Linked DNA regions of Homo sapiens: region 1 is linked to region 2. Evidence: fine-mapped expression QTL. Tissue or cell type: whole blood. Region 2 holds a variant in brackets; the other region holds the start of a gene. All regions are shown on one strand. Distances are from middle to middle.

What was found. PIP is the estimated chance that this variant, and not a neighbour inherited with it, causes the effect.
Region 1: CCND3 starts here. The variant in region 2 is fine-mapped to the expression of CCND3 in whole blood (INTERVAL, PIP above 0.99).

Annotation. Positions count from the first base shown.
Region 1 is chr6:41,937,949-41,946,054 of GRCh38, reverse strand. CCND3 (cyclin D3) reads left to right here and starts at 4,247. Exons shown (of 5, transcript NM_001760.5): 1 at 4,247-4,603; 2 at 5,470-5,685. The coding sequence starts at 4,406. RefSeq lists a silencer at 4,099-4,548 and enhancers at 4,065-5,016, 5,059-5,188, 6,270-6,564, 6,145-6,960, 6,961-7,776.
Region 2 is chr6:41,987,014-41,995,119 of GRCh38, reverse strand. It overlaps a transcript of CCND3 not described here. Among named protein-coding and RNA genes, the nearest start is that of CCND3, 49 kb to the right of the region's middle. The variant C/T (reference allele first, on the strand shown) is at 3,065.

The DNA.
Region 1 (8,106 bases), 49 kb after region 2:
TACGCTAGACCATGCGTTTACCGTTAGAAGCCAGGTCTTCAGGATTTGCTAGAGATGCAATTCTAGGAGTAGGGCTCTTGCTGCTCAAACTTTTGCTTTTCTTAGAGGGGTTATGGATGCATGTTCATAACAGAAAGGGTACTCCTTGAGAAAGGGAATAATAATAATCATTTCAGAAACTACTATCTCTGAATGCTTGCTTTGTGCCAGGCACAGGTAAGACATTTTCTGCTTGTTTAATTTTCAGAACATCATTATAGGGCTATTATATTATCCCCACTGGATAAAAGAGGAAGCAGAGAGGTTCCAGTAATTCTCTCAAAGTCATAAGCTGTGGAGCCAGGTTTGAACTGAAAGCAGTCTCTGACTCCAGAACCCTGTTTAGCACCCCTGTTCTCAGCCCCATGGCTCGCTTGGCTCTCCCCAGCATCTCAATGGGTCTGAAGGTAACTAAGCCATGGCATGTGGACTGTGGGGTGATGGGCCTCACCCATCACCTTGTTCAGCCTCTCACTTCTCAGATGCGGACTTTTTTTTTTGGAGACAGAGTTTCGCTCTTGTTGCCCTGGCTAGAGTGCAATGGCACGATCTCGGCTCACTGCAGCCTCTGGCTCCAGGGTTCAAGTGATTCTCCTGCTCAGCCTCCGGAGTAGCTGGGATTACAGGCATCCACCACCACACCTGGCTAATTTTTTGTATTTTTAGTAGAGACAAGGTTTTACCATGTTGGCCAGGCTGGTCTCGAACTCCTGACTTCAGGTGATCCACCCGTCTTGGCATCCCAAAGTGCTGGGATTACAGGCGTGAGCCACCGTGCCTGGCCCAGATGGGGGTATTTTGATGATGAAGAGGAAGAGAAAGAAAATGTATCTTTCCTCCTTGGGGTTTCTTATTTGGCCTGTGACATTCCATTCCCACCCCTCCTCCAATTTGCCATTTTATTGACTTTTTCTAACTGGATGTACCTGGGTAGAAACTCCTCATACTATTGGCCCTGGTCATTGCTTTGTCTTTAGTTTTCCTTTTAGAAAAACAAAAACAAAAACAAGAAAAACAAGAGGAGCCTCTATTTCTTTGAGGTGGAGGTAACTGGTGAACTTGTGCTGGTCCTGCATTGAGCTCACCTGCCTCCCCAGTGGCCAGTCCTTGGCCCTGAAAGTCAGGGATGATCTAGCTCTAGGCATGGCTATTCCATCCAGGGGTGAGGCAGAAGTATCTCTCCTAAAGTCCTGCTCACCAGGAGCTCCCGTCCCCATACTACAGGTTCACATCCAGCTTTCAGGACTAGTCAGTCTATGTGGCCCTCCCTCAATTAATAAATCAGCAACTAATTTGCCAGGTGCGGTGGTTTGTGCCTGTAATCCCAGCACTTTAGGAAGCTGAGGCAGGCAGATCACTTGAGGTCAGGAGTTCGAGACCAGCCTGGCCAACATGGTGAAATCCCGTATCTACTGAAAATACAAAAATTAGCCGGGCATGGTGGTATGCACCCGTAATCCCAGCTACTCAGGAAGCTGAGGCAGGAGAATCACTTGAAACCAGGAGGCAGAGGTTGCAGTAAGCTGCACTCCAGCCTGGTGACAAGAGCAAAACTTTGTGTCAAAAAAACAAAGAAAACCAAAAAACAAAGAAAAACACAAAAAACCCTTCTATTTGTTAAAAAAAAAAAAATCCACCGTGAACCAAAAATTAGTAAAAACAATGAACTAAAATTTTGTTTTTGCAAAATGTATGATAACAAAATGTTAAGGAAGGTCATGTGCCGTTATGGTTCACTGCAGCCTTGAACTCCTGGGCTCAAGCGATCCTCCTGCTTCGGTCTCCCTAGTAGCTGGGACTACAGGCTTGTGCCACCGCACCCAGCTTATTTTTTTTTTTTATTTTTTGTAGAGATAGGAGTCTTGCTTTGTTGTCCAGGCTGGTCTTCAACTCCTAGCTTCCAGTGATCCTCCTGCCTCAGCCTCCCAAAGTGCTGGGCTGATGGGACATTTTTATACATAGTGCCATGTTACTATAAATGAGAAGTTTTAAAAATACTGATTTTAAAAATTAATTTATGTCAAGAATTTTTATAACCAAAGTTAAAAAACCAAACAAAAAATATGAAAAGGGTTAATATCTTTGAGAGGTGATGAGAACTTATAAGTCAATAAGAGAAAACAAACATCCCTATAAATGAATAAGCTAAGGACATGAATGGGTAATGTACATAAGAAATGTAAATGTCTAGTAATATGCCAAAATAGATTTATTATTACTAATAAGCCACTTTCACTCTCTAGTTGGCAGAGTTGTTTTGAAAAATAGATATGTAATGATGGTGGAAAAGATTGGTTTAACTATTCAGCAGGAAAATTTGGCAATTAGAAGTGTATCAAAAGCCTTAGAATGTTTCATAACCTTAGATTGGGAAATTCCACTTCTAGAAATTAATTCACTTCTAGAAATAATCATGAGTGTGCACAAAGATATTACCACAAAAATATTTTACAGTATTATGTCTAATAGAGAAGAACTAGAAATAATTTAAATTTCCACCAATACAGGTTTGCCAAAATACATTTTGTACATTCACCTAATGGTATATTATGTCCCTATTACAAATTATGTCCTAGAATATTTAATAGCATGGAAAAGTGTTAACAGTATTTTTTTAATGAAAAAAGCTTACAAAACAGTTTGTGATGATTCCATTTAAAATGTGTGTTTATTCATAGAACAAAGATTAGAAAAATAAACATTGATATATTAAAGGGTTATTTCATGGCAAATTGCAAATGATTATTTCCTTTTTTTGTGGCTTATTTGTATTTTTGAAGTTTTCTACAATGTAAAAGAATATTTTATGATATGAAAACTACAATACAATTTATAATATAAGAAAGAATAATTCGGCCGGGAACGGTGGCTCACGCCTGTAATCCCAGCACTTTTGGAGGCCGAGACCGGCGGATCACGAGGTCAGGGGTTCAAGACTAGCCTGGCCAACATAGTGAAACCCCATCTCTACGAAAAATACAAAAATTAGTCAGGCATGGTGGTGCGTGCCTGTAGTCCCAGCTACTCGGGAATTGCTTGAACCCGGGAGGTGGAGGTTGCAGTGAGCCCAGATCGCACCACTGCACTCCAGCTTGAGCAACAGAGTGAGACTTCGTCTCAAAAAAAAAAAAAAAAAAAAAAAAGAATAATTAACAGAAAATGGTTAGACACTTCCTTAGTGTCTCCTAAGTCAGGAGGACCCCAGTAGGGCAGGGATCCTCATGGCCTCCTCCCATTTGGAGCATTATTGGAGGTCTTTTTCGGCCTCTTCGTCAAGTGGAATCTAGCTTCCGGTAAAACTACAAAGTAACCAAAAGTTTGGGAGGTGGAAGAAATGCAACCGGTAGATCTCACAGAGTCTGTGCAAGAAACTGATTCAATGAGAATCTAGTTTCTCCGTCCACAGTTTCTCCAAACAGAAACTAAGGCCGACTTTAGGGGCTTGTCCAAACCTAGGCAAGCAACTTAACAAGGTGAGGCCATGACTCCATGGCCTTTCCGTTCTGTTATATGCTGACTTAGACTAAAGCTCTCATACTTTAAAGTGCACAGAAATCTAGTTAAAATGCAGATTCTGATTCAGGTTAGGGGTGGGCCTGAGAGTCTGCATTTCTAACCAGCTCCCAGGCGATGACCACGCACGGGACAGGTCTGGGATCACAGTTTAACTAGCAATGGTGTAGAACACAGAATCTGCAGCAAGAAGGCCAGCTTCCCAATCCTAGCTCTGCCACGGACCAACTGAATGACAGTTGCCTCGGTTTCCGAGTTTTCGTGAAGATGTAGTGAGTCATTACATCGTGAGGCTTTCGAGCAGCGTTCACTAAGAACTAGCTCTGACATTATTTATCGCATTCCTTAGAGCAAGCAGCCGGTGAAGTAGGGTTTGACGAATGAATAAGTGAATGAATGACCTTTGGAGAAAAATTGTTTCCTGGGTGACTAGAGTCCGAGAAGCAAAATGGGAGGGCCCGTGGGTGGGTAGGAGGCCCACCTCCTAGAAAGTTCTCTGCACCCGGTGGTCCAGAGGGCCTGGAGTGCCCGGAAGCCGGCCGGCTTGCGCTCAGCGGCCCAATGGGGCCGCGGGAGGGAGGGGAGAGCGCTCAGCCAACCCTTTCCGTCCGGGGCGCCGCAGCCCCGCCCCTCGGAGCGTTGCGACGTCCGAGCATTCCACGGTTGCTACATCGTCGCGAGGGGCGGGGCGCCTGTCAGGGAAGCGGCGCGCGCGCGCGGGCGGCGGGCGGGCTGGGGATCCGCCGCGCAGTGCCAGCGCCAGCGCCAGACCCGCGCCCCGCGCTCTCCGGCCCGTCGCCTGCCTTGGGACTCGCGAGCCCGCACTCCCGCCCTGCCTGTTCGCTGCCCGAGTATGGAGCTGCTGTGTTGCGAAGGCACCCGGCACGCGCCCCGGGCCGGGCCGGACCCGCGGCTGCTGGGGGACCAGCGTGTCCTGCAGAGCCTGCTCCGCCTGGAGGAGCGCTACGTACCCCGCGCCTCCTACTTCCAGTGCGTGCAGCGGGAGATCAAGCCGCACATGCGGAAGATGCTGGCTTACTGGATGCTGGAGGTACCGCCCGGACGCGTCCCCCTCCCCCACCGCTCCCGGGTCTGGACACACCGGGGCCGCCCTGTCGGGACATCCCGGTCCCCACAGCAATCTGCAGGATGCTCCGAGGCTAAGACTCCCGGGGCCTGGCCTTTCACTAGGGCACCCACGCCAGCTGCCTCCCTTGCTTTCCCGAGCCCTAATCGGCTCCTCCCGACAGTGACTGCCAGTCACTTGGCACCCTAACTGTGCCTCTCTTCGGGCCGAGCAAACGGGACCAAGGACACTCTCTCCCCTTCGGCTTCTCACAGCGTCTCCCGCTTCCCTCCGCCTCCCGGCCTTCTCCGGAGAGCGCGCCTGGAAAACCCTGGGCTCGGCCGCCCCCGCCCGGGAGCCGGTTCCTGTGTCTTTCGCGGGGTTCTGGCGGGGAAGGCGATGGGGGTGGCGCGCGCCCTGTTCCGGCCGACAGGGAAATGAAAAGTGCAGGAGGCAGCGGCAGGAGCCTCCTCCCTTCCCCTCGGGTGTGTGCAGTGGTGGCGGTGATGGGGGTGAGGTCCCAGCTCTCTGGCTACCATGGGTGACCCTTGCGTCCCACTTCCCCTCGCTGTGGGGGAGGGGAGTCTCCGTTTGGAATCCTCCGTGAGCAAGGGCTCCTTGGCTTTACCACTCCCCCGTCAAGGGGAGAGGGGAGGAGGCCGCGCAGAGGAAGTGGGGGGCGTCACCTTGGGGAGGGCGCATCCTCCTCCTTTATTGGTCCTTGTCTCTCTAAGTAGCTTACCCTCTCTGCCGTTTTTGCTCCCTATCCCACCTCACTTCAGCGCTCCCACCCCCCCGCTGCTGTGTTCCCCACGCTCCAGACCCAGCAGTGACTGTGCGCCCTCCCCCAGGTATGTGAGGAGCAGCGCTGTGAGGAGGAAGTCTTCCCCCTGGCCATGAACTACCTGGATCGCTACCTGTCTTGCGTCCCCACCCGAAAGGCGCAGTTGCAGCTCCTGGGTGCGGTCTGCATGCTGCTGGCCTCCAAGCTGCGCGAGACCACGCCCCTGACCATCGAAAAACTGTGCATCTACACCGACCACGCTGTCTCTCCCCGCCAGTTGCGGGTGCGTGTGTAACTCCCCCCACCCCCGACACGTATTGTCTCCCCACTTTCCAGGAAAAGGAAAGCTTGAGATATCAGAGGCTTTCTGCCCCCTGGAGAGGAAGCAAGGGGATCAGGACCTTTGGGAAAGGAATTGGGGTGGAACAAACGATGGGGCATTGTGGTGTGATGGTTAGTATCACTCCCGCCCAGGCTTGAGCTGCAGGCAGGCATTAAACCCCCTCCTCCTGACCTCCAGGGGATGCCACTCCTTCCTGGTCTTTCCCCCAGATAGCAACAAGTCAAATTGCATGTCTACACTCACTAGTACTTTGCCTCTGGGTTTACGCAGCCACCATGAGTTATTTATTGGCAGCAGAAGGGCATGCCTGCACACCCCCACTGGAGTAGGGGAGTGGAATGTGCTTCATGTGGGGGAGGGGGTTTTGCCTTGGTTGAGTCTTTATCCTCATGTGGACTTTGTGATAGAAAAGCCTCCCAGAGCCAATTAAAGCCAGGCCCTGATTGCTTTAAGGAAGGGCTGATGTATTTCATCCCACCTTCTTTGCTTCCTCTTATATCCCGGAAGAAACAGCTTCTTCCTAATCCTTCCTCGTCCTCATTCTGAGGAACTGGAGCAGCTGCTTTGGGCCTGGTGGAAACAGCTCCCTCTTCCCCCCTTAGCCCAAGGCCCAAGCTGAGGGACAGACAGGGAGGTGAGCTGCATCTGCTTCCGATGTGATAATGGTGCCCCCTCCCCTGGCCCGCCCTCTCTGACCAAGGTCTTTCATAACCCTGTGGGGAGCTGCTGTCACTCCTGTGGTTTGGGAAGTGGCTCCCTGGGCCTCTTGCTGGAAACTTGGGCTGGGCTCAGGCCGGGCAGGAAAGTCACCGGTTCTGTCCCGCCTCAGAAGGAGCCTGGGGAGGAGGCGGGGGAGCTGCTGGATCTGGAAGAGGTTATTTAGGACATGCAGATTGTCTCCTAGGGAGGCTGGGGGAGAGGGTGGGTGAGCTGGCACCTTCCTCCACCTTGCTCTGTGGCGGGCCAAGTCTTCTGCTGACCCTGAGAGGAGTCTCTGGGCCCCATCTCCCAGGGAGGAGGGCAGCAAGCAGGCTGCTGTGATTGGCTGGCAGGGAAGCCAGGGTACTGGGGCCCCCGACTGCTGTGAGTCGAGGAACAGGATTCCTCTTCCTGCCAAGTAGCTCAGAGATGGGAGTAGGAGGCCAGAGTTGGGAATCCAGGAGGCGCCACAGCTCTTTGTGATGAATCTGGTAGTTTTTGGCAAGTCTGAAGGTGGAGCTAGTTTCCAGGGCCAGAGAGCAAGATGTTTTTGGAGGGGTTGGGGCTGGAAGGTAGAAGGGGAACTTCCTTTTTGTGAAAAGATGGAGGTGGTTTGTGTGCCCACGTATGAGGGTTTTTCAGTACAGGCAAAAAGTACTCTTCCCTCTGCCTGAGCTGGGGGTGGAGTGCCCAAAAGACTTCCTAGAAGGTCAAGGTTGGAAGGGACCTCTGAGAACTCCAGTTGGTCCAAATCCGTGTGCAGCAGAGGAGGCTGAGGCCCAAGGAAGGAGGGCAAGGTCCTGCCTCAGCATCGCACTGAGCAGATGAGTGTAGAACCTGGGTCTTCTAGCTAGACCAGGTTGCCTTAAAAGTCAGGAATGTGATGGCCGCTGCCACCTACTGAAGCTAAGCACTCCCAGGGGTGTGTTCTCCACCAGTTAACACTGGGATTCTCTGGTTGCCTGGATATGGGGAAAGGTGGCCACTTTCCCTCAAACACAACCCCTTGCCTCCCCATAGGGAGAGTCCCACTCCCAGTTGCCTTCCAGATGCTTCCTTAGAAGCTGAGTCCCTTCTGTTTACTGCTGAGTTAGGAGTTGGCTCCTGGGACATGCACTAGGGGTAGCGTTGTAATTTATCTGTCTCACTTCTGGCTCCAGGCCAGGCTATTTTCTCTGGGGCTCTGTGAGGGTAGGGGTTGATTTGAGAGGCTGACACCTAAGCTGGGGCCAAGAGAGAGACAGCTGTGGCTGGGGCCTGGAAGAGGTTGGGTGGGGTTGCCATTTCTGCCTCAATAAGGAGTCAAACCCACAAGTTCCTTCCTGAGATAAAACAATGAAGAAATCCTCATGTGTGCAACTCAGAAATGGGGCCAGGTCTGGGAACCCATGACGAGTGGACTGGGGTGGAGCTCCCAGCCTTCTCCCGAGACCTAGTACTGGCAGGTAGGCTTGGGTAGGTGAGGATAGGGCTTGATCCCTCTGGAATCATTTGGAGCCATCCTGTCTGGCTTGGCCTCTACCTATCCTCCTGAAAGTCAAGTGGCATGGGGCACTACGGGTTCCAGCTAAAGGGGGTGGGGTGGGGTGCTATACCTCAGGACCCATCCCTGATATCCTACCAAGGGGATGTGGCTTGGGTTGGGCAATCTCCCCTTTGAGG
Region 2 (8,106 bases):
TTAACTAATATACTTTATTTATTTATTTATTTTTGTTTATCTATTTTTGAGACGGAGTCTCACTCTGTCGCCCAGGCTGGAATGCAATGGCACGATCTCGGCTGACTGCAACCTCCGCCTCCTGGGTTCAAGTGATTCTCCTGCCTCAGCCTCCCGAGTAGCTGGAATTACAGGCGGCTGCCACCACGCCTGGCTAATTTTTGTATTTGTAGTAGAGACGGGGTTTCACCATGTTGGCCAGCCTGGTCTGGAACTCCTGACCTCGTGATCTGCCCACCTCGGACTCCCAAAGTGCTGAGATTACAAGCATAAGCCACCGCGCCCGGCCTATATTTTATTTTTTTAGAGTAGATTTGGTTCACAGCAAAATTGAGCTGCAAAAGTACAGAGTTCCCATATAATTCCTACGCCATACATGCACAGCTTCCCTCACTATTGACACCCTGCACCCTAGTGATGTATTTGTTACAGGTGATGAACCTACGTTGATATATTATCACTGAAAGACCAGCATTTACCTTAGGGTTCACTTTTGGTGTCCATTCTTTGGTTTTTGACAAACATATGACATGTATCCACCATTGTAGTAATATACAGAATACTTTCACTACCCTAAAAATCCTCTGTGCTCTGTTTGTTTGTCTCATGCTTTCCCCTAATTCCTGGGAACCACTGGTCTTTTTGCTCCCTCCATAGTTTGGCCTTTTCCAGAATGTCATCTACAATCATGCATCACTTAATGAGGGGGGTATGTTCTGATAAACGAGTTGTCAGGTGATGTTGTCATTGTGTGAACATCATCGAGTGTACTTACACAAACCTAGATGGAATAGCCTCCTACACCCCTAGACTATATGGGATAGCCTATTGCTCCTAAGCTACAAACCTGTATAGCAGGTTACTGTACTGAATTCTGTAGGCAACTGTAACACAATGGCAAGTAGTTTGTCTATCTAGAGGTGGAAAAGGTAGAGTAACAATAAGATATTATAACCTCATGGGACCACCGTCATATATGCAGTCCATTGTTGACCGAAAACTGTGTGGCATATGACTGTATTTGGAGTCATCTAGTATGAAGCTTTTTCAGATTGGCATTCTTCACTAAGTAATATCCACTTAAGTTTTCTCTATGTCTTTTCATGGCTTGATAGCTCTTTTTTTTTTTTTTTTTTTTTTTTTTTTTTTTTTTTTAAGACAAGAGTCTGTCGCTCTGTCACCCAGGCTGGAGTGCAGTGGTGTGATCTTGGTTGACTACAACCTCCACCTCCCGGGTTCAAGCTATTCTCCTGCCTCAGCCTCCCAAGTAGCTGGGATTATGGGTACCCACCACCATGCCCAGCTAATTTTTTGTATTTTTAGTAGAGACAGGTTTCAGTATGTTGGCCAGGCTGGTCTCAAACTCCTGACCTCGTGATAGTGAACCACTGCACCCAGCCAGCTTTTTTTTTGGAGGCCGAGGTGGGCGGATCATCTGAGGTCAGAAGTTCAAGACCAGCCTGGCCAAATCGTGAAACCCCATCTGTATTGAAAATACAGAAATTAGCTGGGGATGGTGGCGCATGCCTGTAATCCAGTTACTCCAGAGGCTGAGGCAGGAGAACTGCTTGAACCCAGGAGGCAGAGGCTGCAGTGAGTTGAGATGGTACCACTGCACTCCAGCCTGGGCAACAGAGCAAGACTCCATCTCAAAAAAAAAAAAAAAAAAAGAAGACATGAGCTTAACAAATATATTGATATATGGGAAAATGTTCAACATCACTAATCATCAGGGAAATCCAAGTAAAACCACAATGAGGTATCATCTATGCTGTGAGGATGAGGAGAAAAGGGATCTCATAGACGGTTGGTGGGAATATAAACTATTGCAGCCACTATAGCAAACATTATGGAGTTTCCTCAAAAAACTGTAAATCAGACCAGGTATGGTGGTTTCCACCTGTAATCCCAGAGCTTTGGGAGGCCAAGGTGGGGAGATCACTTGGAGCCAGGAGTTCAAGACCATTTTAAGCAACACATCAAGACCCTGTCTCTACAAAACATTTTTAAGCCAGGCATGATATAGTGTGCCTATAGTCTTGTTACTTAGGGGCTTAGGTGTGAGGATTGCCTGAGCCCAGGAGTTCAAGGCTACAGAGAGCTATGATTGTACAACTGCACTCCAGCCTGGATGAAAGAGTGAGACTCCATCTTTAAAAACAAAAATAAAAACAAGGCCAGGCACAGAGGCTCATGCTTGTAACCTCAGCACTTTGGGAGGCTGAGACAGGAGGATTGCTTGAGGGAGGACGAGATTGCAGTGAGCCATGATAGTGGAACCATACTCTAGCCTAGGTGACAGAGCGAGACCCTGTCCCAAGATAGATAAAATATTGCTGGGTGTTGTGGCTCACACCTGTAATCCCAGCACTTTGGGAGGCCGAGACCAGTGTATCACAAGGTCAGGAGTTCGAGACCAGCCTGGCCAACATGGTGAAACCCCGTCTGTACTAAAAATACAAAAATTAGCTGGGCGTGGTGGCGCATGCCTGTTATCCCAGCTACTTAGGAGGCTGAGGCAGGAGAATTGTCTGAACCCGGGAGGTGGAGGTTGCAGTGAGCCACTGCACTCCAGCCTGGCACAGAGCAAGACTCCATCTAAAAAAAAAAAAAAAAACCGGCTGGGTGTGGTGGCTCATGCCTGTAATCCCAGCACTTTGGGGGCTGAGGCAGGAGGATTACTTGAGGTCAGGGGTTTGAGACCAGCCTGCCCAACATGGTAAAACCACGTCTTTACTAAAAATGCAAAAATTAGCCGGGCATGGTGGCAGGCACCTGTAATCCCAGCTACTTGGGAGGCTGAGGCATGAGAATCTCTTGAACCCAGGAGGTGGAGGTTGCAATGAGCTGAGATCATGCCACTGCACTCCAGCCTGGGCGACAGAGTGAGACTTCTTCTCAAAAATTAAAAAATAAATAAAACAAAAAAACTACAAATCAAACTACCATATGATCCAGCAATCCCACTACTGGGCATTTATCCAAAGGAAAGGAAATCAGTATATTGACGAGACATCCACACCTC[C/T]GTATTTATTGCAGCGCTATTGACAACAATCAAGATATCGAATCAACCTTGGTGTCCAACAGCTGATGAATGGATGAAGAAAATGTGGCACGTACACAATGGAATTCTTTTCAGCCATAAAAAAGAATGAAATCCTGTCATTTATGTCACCGTGGATGAAACTGAGGACATTATGTGAAGTCAGATAAACCAGGAATAGAAAGTTAAACACCGCATGTTCTCACTCACACGTGGAAGCTTTAAAAAGCTGATGTCATAGAAGGAAAAAGTAGAACAGAAAATACTAGAGGATGGAAAGGGGAGGGGAAAGGAAGCATAGGGAGAGATTTGTTAAAGGTTACAAAATTACAGCTACATAGGAGGAATAAGTTCCAGTGTTCTATGCCACTGTTGGAATGACTACAGTTAAGAATAATAATAATAGTTTCAAACAGCTAGGTGGAGGATACTGAATGCTCCCAAAACAAACAAAATGACAAATGTTTGAGATGATGGATATGCTAATTACTCTGATCACTGTACACTATATGTATTGAAACATCACTATGTACCCCATAAATATGTACAATTATTATGTATCAATTAAAAAATACAATTATACTAAATTAAAAAGAAACAAACTGGTGCATCCAGACAATGGAGTATTATTTTGTGGTAAAAAGAAATGAGCTATCAGCTGAGCTATGTACCTGAGCGGGGCTGGGCATGGTGGCTTACGCCTATAATCCCAGCACTTTGGGAGACCAAGGCGGGTGGATCACCTGAGGTCAGGAGTTTGAGACCAGCCTGGCCAACATGGTGAAACCTTGTCTCTACTAAAAATACAAAAATTAGCCGGGTGTGGTGCCACATGCCTGTAGCCCCAGCTACTTGGGAGGCTGAGGCAGAAGAATCGCTTGAACCCAGGAGGCAGAGGTTGCAGTGAGCTGAGATCACGCCATTGCACTCCAGTCTGGGCAACAAGAGGGAAATTCCGCCTTAAAAAAAAAAAAAAGTTTTCCCAGCACCATTTCTTGAAGAGACTATCCTTTCCCCAGTGAGTGTTCTTGGCACCTTTGTCAAAAATCAGTTGGCTAAGCCGGGGCAGTGGCGCACACCTGTAATCCCAGCACTTTGGGCGGCTGAGGTGGGCGGATCACCTTAGGTCAGGGGTTCAAAACCAGTCTGGCCAACATGGTGAAACTCCGACTCTACTAAAAATACAAAAATTAGCCGGACATGGTGTCAGGCGCCTGTAGTCCCAGCTACCCTGGAGGCTGAGGCAGGATAATCACTTGAACTCCGGAGGCAGAGGTGCAGGGAGCTGAGATTTTGCCACTTTGCCACTGCACTCCAGCCTGGGTGACAGAGCAAGACTCCATCACAAAAAAAAAAAAAAAAAAAAAAAAAAAAAAATCAGTTGGTTATAGATTCATGGACTAATTTCTGGGTTTTCTATTATTTCCTATTGGTTTATGTGTCTATTTTTATGTCACTACCATGCTATTTTAGTTACTACAGCTTTGTGGTATATTTTGAAGACTGGTAGTGTAATGCCTTCAGCTTTGTTCTTTTTGCTCAGGATTGCTTTGCCTATTTGGGGTCTTTTGTGGTTTCTTATGAATTTTAGGATTTTTTTTTCTATTTCTATGAAGAATATACTGACATGTTGATAGATAGTACAGTGAATCTGTAGATTGCTTTTGGTAATACGATCATTTTAACAATATTAATTCTTCCAATCCATGAACATGGGCCGTCTTTCCATTTGTATCATCTTCAACTTCAATTTCTTTCATCAGTGTTTTGTAGTTTTCCTTGTAGAAGTCTTTCACCTCCTTGGTAAAATTTATTTGTAGGTTTTTTTTTTAGAGCTATTATAATGGAATTGCATTCTTGATTTCTTTTTCAATTAGTTCATTGTTCATGTATAGAAACACTACTGATTTTTGTATGTTGATTTTGTATCCTGCAACTTTACTGAATTTGTTTATCAGTTTTTTGGTAGTCTTTAGCTTTTTCTATGTATAGGATTATGTCATCTGCAAACTGGAACAATTTGACTTCCTTCTTTTCCAATTTATAAGTCCTTTATTTTTTTTCTCTTGCCTAATTGCTCTGGCTTTGGTATCCATTCACCTACTGAAGGACAGCTTGGGCCTCAGAGTTTTGACAATTATGAATAAAGCCACTATCAACATCTGTGTGCAGGTTTTTGTGTGCACGTAAGTTTTCAGTTCATTTGGGCAGATACCAAGGAGTATAACTGCCGGGTTATAGAATAGTACTTTTAGTCATATAAGAAACTGTTAAATTGTCTTCCAAAGTGAATATACCATTTTGCATTCCCACCAGCAATGAATGAGAGTTTTTGTTGCTTCACATTCTCACCAGCACTTGATATGCCAATGTTTGGTATCTCAGTCATTCTAATAGGTGCATAGTGGTACATCATTATTGTTTTAATTTGCAATTTTCTAATGACATATGATTTAGAACACCTTTACATATGCTTATTTGCTATCTGTAGATGTTTGGTGAGATATCAGCTTGGTTCTTCTGCCCACTTTGTAATCAGATTGTTGTTTTCTTTTCTGTTTTTTTTTTTTGTTTTTTTTTTTTGAGACAGTGTTTCACTCTTGTCGCCCAGGCTAGAGTACAATGGCACAATCTTGCTCACTGCAACCTCCATCTCCCAGGTTCAAGCGATTCTCCTGCCTCAGTCTCCCGAGTAGCTTTTAATATACCAAAGACCACACCCAGCTAATTTTTGTATTTTTAGTAGAGATGGGGTTTCACCATGTTGGCCAGGCCGATCTCGAACTCCTTACCTCAGGTGATCCACCCGCCTTAGCCTCCCAAAGTCTTGGGATTACAGGCATGAGCCACAGTGCCCAGGTTGTTTGTTTTCTTATTGTTGAGATTTTAAGAGTTTTTTTTGCATATTGCGAATAACAATCCTTTATCAAATGTGTTCTTTGCAATTATTTCCCCCTAGTCTGTGGCTTGTCTTCTCATTCTTTTGACATTGCCTTTTGTGGAGCGGAGGTTTTAAATTTTAATGAAGTTCAGCTTATCGGCCGGGCGAGGTGGCTCACGCCTGTAATCCCAGCACTTTGGGAGGCCGAGGCGGGCGGATCATGAGGTCAGGAGATCGAGACCATCCTGGCTAACACAGTGAAACCCCGTCTCTGCTAAAAATACAAAAAAATTAGCTGGGCGCGGTGGCAGGCGCCTGTAGTCCCAGCTATTCGGGAGCCTCAGGCAGGAGAATGGCGTGAACCCGGGAGGCGGAGCTTGCAGTGAGCCGACATCGCGCCACTGCACTCCAGCCTGGGCGACAGAGCCAGACTCCGTCTCAAAAAAAAAAAAAAAAAGAAAAGAAGTTCAGCTTATCAATTATTTTTTCATAAATCATGCCTTTGGCATTATATCTAAAAAGCCATCCCCCATGAGGCCAAGAGGCCATGGCCATGTTAGCCCAGCTGCAAGGCTGGCCATCAGTTGTAGGAAATCCGTACTCCTTTAGGAACAGTATTGTGAATACATTTAGAAAAAAAGGAAAATGATCCAGCAGTTAAAATTCAGAGCTGGTTTACAGGATATTGACATGTTCAGGCATACATTAGGCACTTAAAAGAATTGTAATAACTATTCAAAAATGGGGTAGTTATTTAGGCAGCAGTGGCTATCAGGATTGAGAGAAGATGGTGAGCGGCTGTAAGAATGAGAAATACTGTTTTAATTTTTATTATTATTATGTTTTGAGACAGAGTTTCACTCTTGTTGCCCACCCAGGCTGGAGTGCAATGGCACGATCTCAGCTCATCACAACCTCTGCCTCCCGGGTTCAAGCAATTATCCTGCCTCAGCCTCCCGAGTAGCTGGGATTACAGGCATGCGCCACCATGCCTGGCTATTTTAGTAGAGACAGGGTTTCTCCATGTTGGTCAGGTTGGTCTCGAACTCCTGACCTCAGGTGATCCGCCTGCCTTGGCCTCTCAAAGTGCTGGGATTACAGGCATAAGCCACCGTGCCTGGTCTGTTTTAATTATTTTTATCTGAAGGAGTACCTGAGAATGGTTTGGGGAACCAGTGATGCAATTTAGGGAGGCACTAGAGGAGTTTGCAGAGATAAAAAAGAGAGAAGAGAACAAAGCTAAGCTCAAAAAGGAAGCAAAGAAAAGAGATCACTAAGTGTAAAAGATGCATTTTCTCCTCAGCACAAAGCAGATTCCAGGTGTATATAATTCACCATTCAGAAAAAAATTCCGTGGCCTGTCATGCTGGCTCACACCTGTAATCCCAGCACTTTGGGAGGCCAAGGCAGGAAGATCACTTGAGCCCAAGAGTTCGAGACCAGTCTGGGCAACATAGCAAGACCCCCTCTCTATTAAAAAAAAAAAATTAGCTGAGTATGGTGGTACACACCTGTAGTCCCAGCTACTTGGGAGACTGAGGCTGGAGGATCACTTGAGCCACTGGTAGCCTGAACGACAGAACAAGACTCTGTCTCTAAAACACACACACACACACACACACACACACACACACACACAGAGAGAGAGAGAGAGAGAGAGAGAGAGAGAGAGAGAGAGAAAAGCCTGGTCCATGGGAGTTGTGGTTACAGAAGGCAAAGCTTTTAATATACCAAAGATCTAAAGTTAAGCAGAAGTACTCCATAAGCCTTACCAATTGGCTAGCTTGTATAAGCACCCAGTCTTTTCTGAAGTGCTGCTACCTCTCAATAGGAAGCAATATCGGGGTCCTTCCAAGGTATCACTGAAGTATTAGGACAATGCCACAAGCCTTTGGAGCCAATGTTACAGGCACCAGAACCAATCAGTGAGTTAAAGTTAAAGTGAGGAGCTCAAAAGAGAGGAATGAGTGCGAAATGTAATTGACAATATGTTTTTGCCATTTTCTTCCTACTGTAAAAATAGAAAGTCCATCCCATTAATCCAGAGTTAATTAATATCCAGAGCTGGTTTACAGGATATTGACATGTTCTGGCATACATTAGGAATTTACACAGAATAGTAATGACTATTCAAAAATGGGGT